Linked DNA regions of Homo sapiens: regions 2, 3 and 4 are each linked to region 1. The links come from fine-mapping of genetic effects on gene expression. A gene starts in region 1. Each other region holds a variant in brackets. All regions are shown on one strand. Distances are between the middles of the regions. Region 1 holds the start of ODR4 (odr-4 GPCR localization factor homolog). Region 2 overlaps PLA2G4A (phospholipase A2 group IVA). Region 3 overlaps ODR4 (odr-4 GPCR localization factor homolog). Region 4 overlaps PLA2G4A (phospholipase A2 group IVA).

Region 1 (2,692 bases):
GGAAAGCGAAGGCTCAGGATATCCACAGAGCCCAGGAAGTGAGGTTAACAGAGCGGTACCCAGTGCCAACTTGATGGGGGAAGACCAGACCCAAAGGGCGGGAGTCGAGCCCAAAACCAAGGACGGAAAGAGCATCTCACTTACCGCTCTCCACCTTAAATTTCTCATGCCGCCCCTTCAGGCCATCGATCTCGGATTGCTGATCAGCAAGGAACTTTTCAAGTTTGTTCTGGACAGACTTGGGCAGCTTGTTCAGCTCCGTGCGCTCCAGGACTTGCTGCAACACCGCCGCCATGTCGGTGGGGCCAGGGACCCCAGTGGCAGCGGCCGACGGGGTAGAAGCGGAGAAGAAAGGCGAAGACCAGCAGGACCCAGACGCCTGGGCCGCCGCCTCTATCACCTCGCTCGGTGGCTCGCGCGCGCCCGCCCGCCGGAGACTCCCGCGGCGGGACCCTGGGAAATCGAGTCCACCCTCAGCGGCAGCGTTTCAGCAACAGCACCTCACCGCCCGCGACCGAAGTGCGCGCGCAGCCGTTGGAAGCTACGAACCCTGGGAACCCGAGCTCAGAGGCTATCCCTGATCCTCTTGCGCACCCAATTTTCCGGCTTCCAGCTCCACCCACTTCAGGCCTTGTAGGGCTCTGGGAAATGTAGTGTTTTTCTCATTCTTTTCCGGGAGCCCAATGCTGCACCGCCCTCTCAGCTTCCGTTTTTCTCCCCGCTCCCCTGGCTCTCCTATCTCGGCCCCGTAACCGCTGTCCGCACGGTGGCGCCACATACGTACTCGTCACCCCTTGGCCCTCCCTGAAGAGCTGGTGACCTTACCGTCAAAGCCCCGGGATGCCATGGATCGTCCTCGTTGGCGGCTTCTGGACACTGAGCCACTAGAGGGCATCGGTCCCGGTAGGGCCGGACGGCAGGCTCCGGGATACCGCCACGCTCTCTATGGCGCCCAGAAGGGGGCGGGGTGGCGACCGCAGTCGCTTTGGCTGAGGCTCTGCGGGGAAGGGAGGGGGGGCTTTTACGTCATCAATCTGCGCCACCTGACTCCCAAGTCCCTGGCTTTGGAGTGGGAAGTGAGGTGTGGGAAGTAGGTCGCTTTCTGATGAATTCAGTGGCAGTGAATTGAGACCGGAGGGAATCTGGCCCCTAGAGGCTGGTACTTGGGCCCGAAACCCCCATCTCCGGCGGAGAGACCGTCCGAGGTAATTGTCTGCCACGAGTGCACATTCTGAAAACAGGTAAGTCAGCCTAAGTGTAGTGTGTGTGTGTGTGTGTGTGTGTGTGTGCTCTCTTTTCAAGAGAAAAAGGAAGGGACAGTGTTGGAACCATATGGACAGTCACTCCGGCACACACTTCTGACGAACTTACCTTGTGTGAAACGGCGTACCTAAATGGTTTTTGGTGGTGGGGAGGTGGCACTGAGTGATTCAGTACCCGGGAATTTAAGGACCCGGGTTAATTCTTCAGGAGGAGAATTAAAAGAAACCGGTAGCACTTTGAGTGTAGCCTATGTTTTAAATTTTTCGTTGCAGAAACGGTTACCTAACATTATATTGTTTTTAAAATTGAAAACTGTTGTAACTGAAGTTTTTAAACACATTGTTAATTTCTACAGTAACAGAACTTGTATGGTTCCAGATCATAATTCTGTAGTTTTAAAGCTCAATCCGTAGATTGTTTCGTGTTTACTCTTATGAAAGAATTTGTTAAATTATTCATTGTAAATAATGCATTCCCAGTGTCGTCTCTCTGCAGTTCCCACAGTCGTGGGCCTTCTGTGAATTGGTGATTTAGTTCTTATATGAAATTTATTCTTTTTCTCTAGTTCTTACTTTTGAATCATGTTGTGAAGCCGTCTAAGAAATATAAATGGAAGCATTTTATGATATTTTGTAATAACTAAGGAAAAATAAATCAACAGCGGAGCTTAAGGTTGATTTTTCCCCAAAAATATTTTTTAGATAAGCATTGTAATTAAAGTTGCTGGTATATGAAGTATTATGCTATGTCCTAAGCCCACAGTATTATCATACTGTTGATCTGTCATTTGGGAAATGTAGATTTTTCTGTACTTAGATTCACAGAATCCTAAAATTAGATAGGTTTTCAGATCTGCTAGGATTCAAATGCTTTATTTTATAGATTAGGAAACCAGAGCCCAGAAAGGTTGAGTTGTGTCAGTCACAGTGCTTGGACCACAAAGGCTTTGGCTGATATACAACATTTCTGGAAAATTATGACCCTATAAGGCAAAATACAGTTGTCCCTTGGTATCCGTGGGGCATTGGTTCCAGGACCCTCTCACCTGCCCACCCCATGGATATGAAATCCATGGATGCTCCAGTTCCTTATATTAAATGGTGTAGCATTTGCATATCTTAAATCATCTCTAAGTTACTTATAATACCTAATACAATGTAAATGCTATAGTTGTTATATTATATTGTTTAGGGAATAGTGACAAGAAAAAACATCTTTAATGATACAGATGTAATCATGCTTTAAAAAAATAATTTTTCAATCTGTGGTTGGTTGAATACATGGAAGTGGAAACCACAGATGTGGAAAGCTGACTATATACATTTTTAGTACTGCCTTTTATAAAGTATGGTTGACTACATTTAAAAATTTTGAAAGAGCACTAAAGAAAAATTTATCTGACATTCAATCAGATTTCATAATTGAATAG
Region 2 (2,692 bases), 540 kb after region 1:
GTCCTAATTCATGACAAATGTACTTATTTTTGGTCATATAGCCTTTTTCCCAACTAAAATGGCCACATCCCCTTCCTAGCTTATTGCTATTAATGATAGCACAGGCATCAAATTTCAAGATTATGCGTTTGGGCACCCCTTTTTCTTCTGTTCTGGCTAATACTTTACTTGTATCATTTATGAGTCCCCACCAGTCTTCAGTCCTTAATCTTATTTCAAAAACAGTGGACATGGGAGGCTCAGAGGGGTCATAACACACATCTGGTCTGTCGTTTCCTGGGCTACATACCTGTACTGAGTGTCATTATATAAACATGTTCCTTTTAAAGTTCCTAGGCATTCATAGTAACTATAGAACAGAATAATTGTTTTAACTTGTTGCCCTACCTCGGTAACCTGATGTATACACTGAGAGCAGTCCTCCATGCAGGGAAAATCAGTGGAAGTGTCTACTATACAAGTCCAAATTATAAGGAAAATGAATCCCATGATAATTTTCCTCATGCTTCGGCTGTGCATAGACCAGTCAGCTTCTGGGTGTGACTGGAGCAGGGCTTGTCGTCCTCCTCAGAGTCACTTTGCAGGGGTTGTCCGGGCTCGGTTTTGCCTTCCAGGTTTCAGCGGCTGCAGGTTTCACACGGCTGTGGTGGATCCAGGGTGGGATTCCTTCTACCTTTACAGCTGTGGGGGTGTTCAGGATGATGGTCTGAGGTCCTTTCCACCGTGGCCGCAAAGGGGCTACATTCCAGTCCTTGATTCATACGCGATCACCTGGAGAGAAAGGGTGAACTGGGGAGAATAAGCTGATGGGACACCTCTCATTTACCCAAGTTGAGATTGTTTGTGTAATTTTTCCTAAAGCCTGTAGCTGTCGCTGTAATTCAATTCACCTAACTCTTGGGAAGTGCCTGGAAGCTCTCCTAGTATAGGAGGAGGCCTATGATACAGTATTTCTTAAGGGGAGTATCCTGTTTTCTTAGAAGGAGTGCATCTAATTTTAAACAATACCATAGGAAGGGCCTGTATCCACTTTAATCCTGTTTCCTGACATACTTTCCCTAAACTATTTTTGATAGTCCGATTCATTCGCTCCACCTTTCCGGAACTCTGAGGTCAGTAGGCGGTATGTAGCTTCCAAGTGATTCCTAATGCCTTTGCTGTCTTCCGTACCAAGTGAGCCACAAATGCCGGCCCGTTATCTGAGCTGATTCATAAGGGCAGTCCAAACCTAGGAATAAGATCTTGGAGAAGCACATGGGTTACCTTGTAGGGCTTTTCAGTTCGTGTTGGATAAGCCTCCACCCACCCAGAGTAAGTACACGTAAGAACCAGCAAATACTTGTTACCTCCACATTTTGGCATTTCTGTGAAATCCACCTGAAGATCCTCAAAAGGAGCTGCTCCATAAGCTTGTATGTGGGGCGAAACAGTGGGGCTTTGCCTCGCATTGTGCTGTCGGCATGTAATGCACAGTTGTGCTACTGCTTTGGCAAAGGCTGGCAAGTGTGAGAC[G/A]TAGAAGTACCGGCCTAACAATTCTTCAAGTGACTCTTGCCCTAGGTGAGTGGTTTCGTGCATGGCCAATACGACTGTGGCTCCCAGCAACTGCAGCACAGCTACCCTCCCATCTGGCAGTCTGATTCATCCTCCTTTTATTACTTGCCCCCTGTCTGGGTGGAAGAAGTCTTTTTCTTCCTTAGAATAGGTATGTACCAGGTCAGGTGTTTGAGGGAGTAAGGGGGCTGCTATCGATGCCCAGTAAGGGGTAGATGCTGCTTTTTGAGCTTCTGAATCAGGTCGAGAGTTTCTTAAGGCCACTGAGGTGGAGGCTCGCTGGTGTCCCCTGCAGTGCATGACTGCCACCTTCTGAGGTTTCCACACTGCCTCTAATAATTGTAGAATTTACTGTTGATATTTTATGTCCTTTCCCCCAGAGTTTAACAGGCCCTTTTCCTTATATAATGCTCCATGCACTTGGAGGGTTAGAGAGGCATATCCAGAGTCAGTGTAGATGTTTACAGTCTTACCTTCACTGAGTTCTACAGCCCGAGTTAAAGCAATGAGCTCAGCCTTCTGGGCTGAAGTGCCCTGTAGCCACAGTTTGGCTTTAATGACAGCATCCAAAGTTACCACCGCATATCCTGCACATCTTTCTCCTTGTGAGTTGATGAAGCTGCTCCCGTCCATGTATAACTCCCAGTCTACTGATGATGCCCATGGCTGGTCCCGAAGGTCAGGTCTGCTAGAATAGACTGAGTCCAACACCTCTACACAGTTATGCTCGCCCGGGCTCTCTGATACTGGGAGCAGGGTGGTGGGATTTAGGGTGTTACAGACTTCAATAGTTATGTGGGGATTTTCACATGGCAAGCTTTGGTACTTGGTTAATCTAGCATTTGTTAGCCAATGATGTCCTTCGGTAGTCATCAAAGTTACCACAGCATGGGGGGCCTTTATATTCAGGTTTTGCCCAAGGGTTAGTTTATCTGCTTCTTGTGCTAACAGGGCTGTTGCTGCCAGGGTCCTTAGACATAGTGGCCAGCCTTTGGAAACCCATCTAGTTGTTTTGAGAGATAGGCCACTGGCCTTGGCCAGGGCCCCACAGTCTGGGTTAAAACTCCAACTGCCATTTTTTCTCTTTCTGACACATAGAGTGTAAAGGGCTTTGTCAAATCTGGTAGTCCTAGGGCTGGGG
Region 3 (2,692 bases), 29 kb after region 1:
TTATATTGGCTTAATTTTAAAATTTTTTTATTTGTTTTGACTTTATTCAGATAATGTTGAACTAGATACTATGACATGAGGATATTCCTAAAGGATTCTGCTTTGGAGTGCTTTTTGAGATGTGTCTTTTCCAAAAGATTTCTCCTCCCATTTAAACCTCAGACCAACAGAAAACGAGTCTTACTTAGATACTAAATTGCTAATTTAACTTCTTAATTTGAAAGTTGTAGTGCTTTTTCTTTTTAATGAGTAATTTAAATTTATTGGAACCAGTTATTTAACGTTTGATTTTTTTAGCTTGTTATTTTTCAGATAGACCAAGAATTGATGTAGTTTGAAATGGTTTTAAAATTTTGCATGCCAATTGCACATGCACATTAGAGTCATTTTTGAGTTTTTACTTAATCTGTTTCAAGTAACTGTGGCTCAAAATAAAATAATATAGTCCTAATTTCAATGTGTGGACAATTTTCGTGCTACAGTACAAATTGCAGTAATATTCTTCTACAGCTAGGAGGCAGTCTGGTCAAAGAGTAAAATTTCTCTCCCAGTTCTCATGTGCAAACAAGATAATACACAGAATCTGGAAGGAACACGTAGTTTAAGCCATTGCATTTCCTGTGACACTTAAGGCATTGTTCGTCATCTTCTGTTTGTAATTATGTAAAGTTACCACTAGTTTCTTGACAACGAAGTCTAGGTTACTATTAAAATAAGCCCTAGTTTTCCACTTGATCTTTACATTAGTAACTTTTTAATCATATCTGTTGCTGAAAGAGGTCATTCTTTTCACAAAATTTCTATCTTTCTGATAGTTCATAAGGATCGTAGCATTTAACTAAAAAGTAATTATATATTTACATGCAACAGTGACTATGTTAGAAATTAGGGGAAATAATATATTCCAGTTTGTAAGTATTCACAGAAGAATGAGATATTTGTTATTTATTTAGATTTATTTTTTTCTAAAAATGATTTAAGGCTTTTTACAAAGAAGCATAAGTAAACAAGTGAAAATAAATATTAGTAATAAAGAGTCAAAGGGAAGGTAAAAAAAGAAAGCAAAATGGAGTTGGTAGTGAGATAGGTACACAAAACTGTATGTATGACTAGATGTCCTAAACATGCTTGATATATAGGAAGGGGGCTACATCTAGTAAG[A/G]TGAAATTCATGGGGAGATTAATACAAAAATGTATTCTATCAGATCCTGTGCACTAGATGTAAGGTGGCCAGTAATTTGGCTCCAAACTTGGATGAAGAAGAGAAAAACCAACTATAAAATGTACAGTGCCTATGAGGCTAAAACAGACAAGAAGGACAATAGTTTCTGACATCAAGGACAAAATTGTCTCTTGAGTGTTCTTCATAGGACAGTGGGTCGTATAAGAATGTGTAATCAACAGCTTTACATTGAAGGCAATGATAAGTTTATTTTATTTTTATTTTTATTTTGAGATGGAGTCTCGCTCTGTTGCCCAGGCTGGAGTGCAGTGGTGCGATCTTGGCTCACCGCAACCTCCACCTCCCGGTTCAAGAAATCCTCCTGCCTCAGCCTCCTGAGTAGCTGGGATTACAGGCACCTGCCACCACGCCTGACTAATTTTTGTATTTTTAGTAGAAACGGGGTTTCACCATGTTGGCCACGTTGGTCTCCAACTCCTGACCTCAAGTGATCTGCCCACCTCAGCCTCCCAAAGTGCTGGGATTACAGGCATGAGCCACCGCGCCTGGAGATAAGTTTATTTTTCATAGGAGTATCATTTAGGTTCCTTGCAAAGACCAGGGGTTTTGAGGTAAAGCAGAATTTGGTAAGAGCAATTTTGTGCCAGATCAACCAGAAAATGAAAAAATATTGACCTTTTAAGCTTTATTTCTATTAGTTTTTGTATGTACTTCTAAAATATGTATCACTGATACCAGTGACAAACCTATCTAAATATTGATAATATTTCTTTTCCTTTTAGATTCTGAAAAAGAGTTCCACGTCCTCCCTTATCGAGTCTTTGTTCCCCTTCCTGGATCCACTGTAATGTTGTGTGATTATAAATTTGACGATGAGTCAGCTGAAGAAATCAGGGACCATTTTATGGAGATGTTGGATCACACAATTCAAATAGAAGATTTGGAAATTGCAGAGGAAACAAACACAGGTCATTATATGATGCTATTTAAGAACCTGGTTAGATTACAGCTAAGATTTTACCTATGAGATGTCTAGTTTAAATATCATGTCTTTAGATTTTTTTTAAAGCTAGTTCTGTTTGACACTTCGAAATATTAACTGAGACATTTTAAAATACATGTTTAATTTCTACATGTCTAGACATACAGTGAGTATTTCCTGGGAAATTGTACCAAAATTTAAGATACTAAGGTATTTTTCAAGCTTAGCAAGTAGATCTTAATAAAACAAGTTCAGGATTAAGTAGGTAAAATTACAAAGCTTTAAGGTATTTCTTTCAATATAAAAGTTTTCTCAAAACTCATTATCTTACTTGGTAAAGCATCATGTCAGAACAGAAGGTTTTAAAACACTAATTTATTAAACATTTTCTCCATATTATTTGCCTTTTTTTTTTCATATACCTTTCATGTAATTGGGATACTAAGCCAAAATGGGCAGTTCCAGAAATTAGATGACTTTTATAGAGCATAGATTTGCTTTACTATCCAGGTTTTGTAACACATTTTT
Region 4 (2,692 bases), 510 kb after region 1:
AAGGAAAAGAAGCAGTCACCTCCTGGTTGAAAATGTGATAATGTTACCCTATGACATGTTCTCTTCTTCTTTGGCCCATTTCACCTTATCATCCTTCCCACTCAATCTTTTTGTTCTCTAATTTGTATTCCATGGTCCTGTTGAGAGTTATAAGCACTGAGTTAGAAATGAGAATGACTGGCTTTCCCCTTTTGTCTAAAATAGGATATCAAAAGTGTGACCAGAAGATGATCCACATCAGTGTCAGCTAGACTATTTGTTAAAAATTGCAAGCCCTTAATTCCACTACAGATATGCAGACAATGGGTCTTCGGGGATGAAGGTCGGGGTCTATGTTTTTACAATAACCCTGGGCATTTGTGTTGCACTCTCACTTTTGCCCCACTGCTCTTTACCAATGATGTATAAGGTCCAAGCCGGAAAATTAAAGGCAGCCTCAAAGGCTGATACCTTGTTTGTAGATCCTCCCGTTTTATAATAACAACCACTAAACATACACATGCATCTAAAGAAGCTGATGACTACATAAAGAACTAGGAGCAATACTGAACAATTAAGTGAAAGACATTGATTACGTTTTTTGATGACCATAGCTGTTGTTGACAGACAACATCTATTTAAATTTTTTTGGGGGGGAAACCCAATCAATAGGTCAGAAACTATTATTTTTGCTTTTCCTTTATTTTCAACTGTTGGATCTTTTTGTTTAGACCTCTGTACTTCTTCTCTCCCCCCTCCCTCCCTCACTCTTGCACTCACCCTCTCTTTCTCTTCCTCTAATTCCAGCTCCTCTTTCCATAGAATCCATACCCTGTAATCTAATTTTTGTTACTGAGGAACATGATGTAATAAGAGAATGATTGTTGTAGTCAAATGACCCAGGTTCAAGAACTTGACCTGATACTTATTAGCTATGTGATATTGGACAGAATGCTTAATATTTCTCAGTTCCTGTTACTTTAACACTAAAATAAAGTACTTACATTATAGCGCGATTGTGAGATTTAAATGAGACTAATGTGTGTAAAGTACTTAACACAGATCCCTGTAGTCATTACTTAGTTATTTGTTGTTTTTGTTATTAATTATAATGGCCGCATGGAAAAGCACCTGTTAAACGGGAAAGTCAAGTCGATAGGTTAGGAAACCTTAAATATTGTAATTGTCGCTTTCTGTTGTTAGCTTCTGAAGATGTACAGCTGAGGAAGACAAGATCTTTGCCCTCAAGTTGTTTATAGTCTTGTAGGAAAAGACAGATAGATGTATAATTTCATCCATAAAGTATAGTGTGTCCAGTGCTGTAAGACATTAAAGGATTCGGTGGAATCCTAAAAAAGGAGTGATCAATACTTGCACAGTTTGGGTCACTCGCTTTGTTGCTAAGTGTATATGTAATGGGAGGAAATTAAAATAATTTCTTTATTTGCAATTGTTTTGTTCTATTTCAGTGGGCACACATATCATACCCTGATTCAAGTGGGTATTTATGTGAAATAGAAAAAACCGTTACTGGCCGGGCATGGTGGCTCATGCCTGTAATCCCAGCACTTCGGGA[G/A]TCTGAGGCGGGCAGATCAGGAGGTCAGGAGATCGAGACCATCCTGGCCAACATGGTGTAACCCTGTCTCTACTGAATATACAAAAATTAGCCGGGCATAGTGGCATGTGCCTGTAATCCCAGCTACTCTGGAGGCTGAGGCACGAAAATTGCTTGAACCAGGAGGCCGAGGTTGCAGTGAGCTGAGATTGTGCCACTGCACTCCAGCCTGGCAACAGAGCAAGACTCTGTCTCAAAAAAAAAAAAAAAGGAAAAGAAAAAAATTGTTGCTTCATAGAGACACCTCATTTCCATCTGAATATTGCCATAATAAATACATGTTGATTTTTAATATGAGTGCCACCCCTTAAAGTTGTTCAGTGTACAACCTGTACAACCATACAAGGCAACTCTATAACAATAAACAATATTCTTCTCACAATGACTTCCATTATTTTATCTGATAAAGTAAGCAGGATGATTTTTCTAACATTGACAAATATAATCTTTTTTTTAAAAAAAAGTATTTTTCAATTTTTTTTCTTTTTTACTTTTTACTTTTACTTTTTAATTTTTATGGGTACATAGTAGGTGTATATATTTATGGGGTAAGTGAAGTGTTTTGATATAGGTATGCAGTGTAAAGTAATCACATCATGGAGAATAGGGTATCCATCCTCTGAAGCATTTATGATTTGTTGCAAATAATCCAATTACACTCTTTTAGTTACTTTTAAGTGAACAATTAGGTTATTATTGACTATCGTCACCCTGTTGTGTTATCAAATAGCAAGTCTTATTCATTTTTCTGTTGTGTTTTTTTTGTATCCATTAACCATCCCCACCTCCCCTCCAGCCCCCTACTACCCTTCCCAGCCTCTGGTAATCATCCTTCTGCCCCCTCCATGGGTTCAACTGTTTTGATTCTTAGATCCCACAAATAAGTGAGAATATGTGCTGTTTGTCTTTCTGTGCCTGGCTTATTTCACTTAAGATAATGACTTCCAGTTCCATCCATGCAAATGGCGAGATCTCATTCTTCTTTATGGCTGAGTAACACTCCATTGTGTATATGTAACACATTTTATTTACCCATTCATCTGTTGATGGACACTTAGGTTGCTTCTAAATCTTAGCTATTGTAAATAGTGCTGCAAT

Evidence for each region. PIP is the estimated chance that this variant, and not a neighbour inherited with it, causes the effect.
Region 2: its variant is fine-mapped to the expression of ODR4 in testis (GTEx, PIP 0.99).
Region 3: its variant is fine-mapped to the expression of ODR4 in whole blood (INTERVAL, PIP 0.91).
Region 4: its variant is fine-mapped to the expression of ODR4 in testis (GTEx, PIP above 0.99). The same link has a PIP of 0.9 or more in caudate, pituitary and subcutaneous fat.

Annotation. Positions count from the first base shown.
Region 1 is chr1:186,374,734-186,377,425 of GRCh38, forward strand. ODR4 (odr-4 GPCR localization factor homolog) reads left to right here and starts at 1,105. Exons shown (of 14, transcript NM_017847.6): 1 at 1,105-1,241. It overlaps TPR (translocated promoter region, nuclear basket protein), which reads right to left and starts at 520. Exons shown (of 51, transcript NM_003292.3): 1 at 145-520. The coding sequence starts at 295. RefSeq lists enhancers at 265-564, 725-774, 945-1,134.
Region 2 is chr1:186,916,422-186,919,113 of GRCh38, forward strand. The region is part of intron 7 of PLA2G4A (phospholipase A2 group IVA); the gene reads left to right. Among named protein-coding and RNA genes, the nearest start is that of PLA2G4A, 89 kb to the left of the region's middle. The variant G/A (reference allele first, on the strand shown) is at 1,513.
Region 3 is chr1:186,404,119-186,406,810 of GRCh38, forward strand. ODR4 (odr-4 GPCR localization factor homolog) reads left to right here. Exons shown (of 14, transcript NM_017847.6): 12 at 1,965-2,150. Among named protein-coding and RNA genes, the nearest start is that of ODR4, 30 kb to the left of the region's middle. The variant A/G (reference allele first, on the strand shown) is at 1,162.
Region 4 is chr1:186,889,063-186,891,754 of GRCh38, forward strand. All of the region lies in intron 3 of PLA2G4A (phospholipase A2 group IVA), which reads left to right. Among named protein-coding and RNA genes, the nearest start is that of PLA2G4A, 61 kb to the left of the region's middle. The variant G/A (reference allele first, on the strand shown) is at 1,556.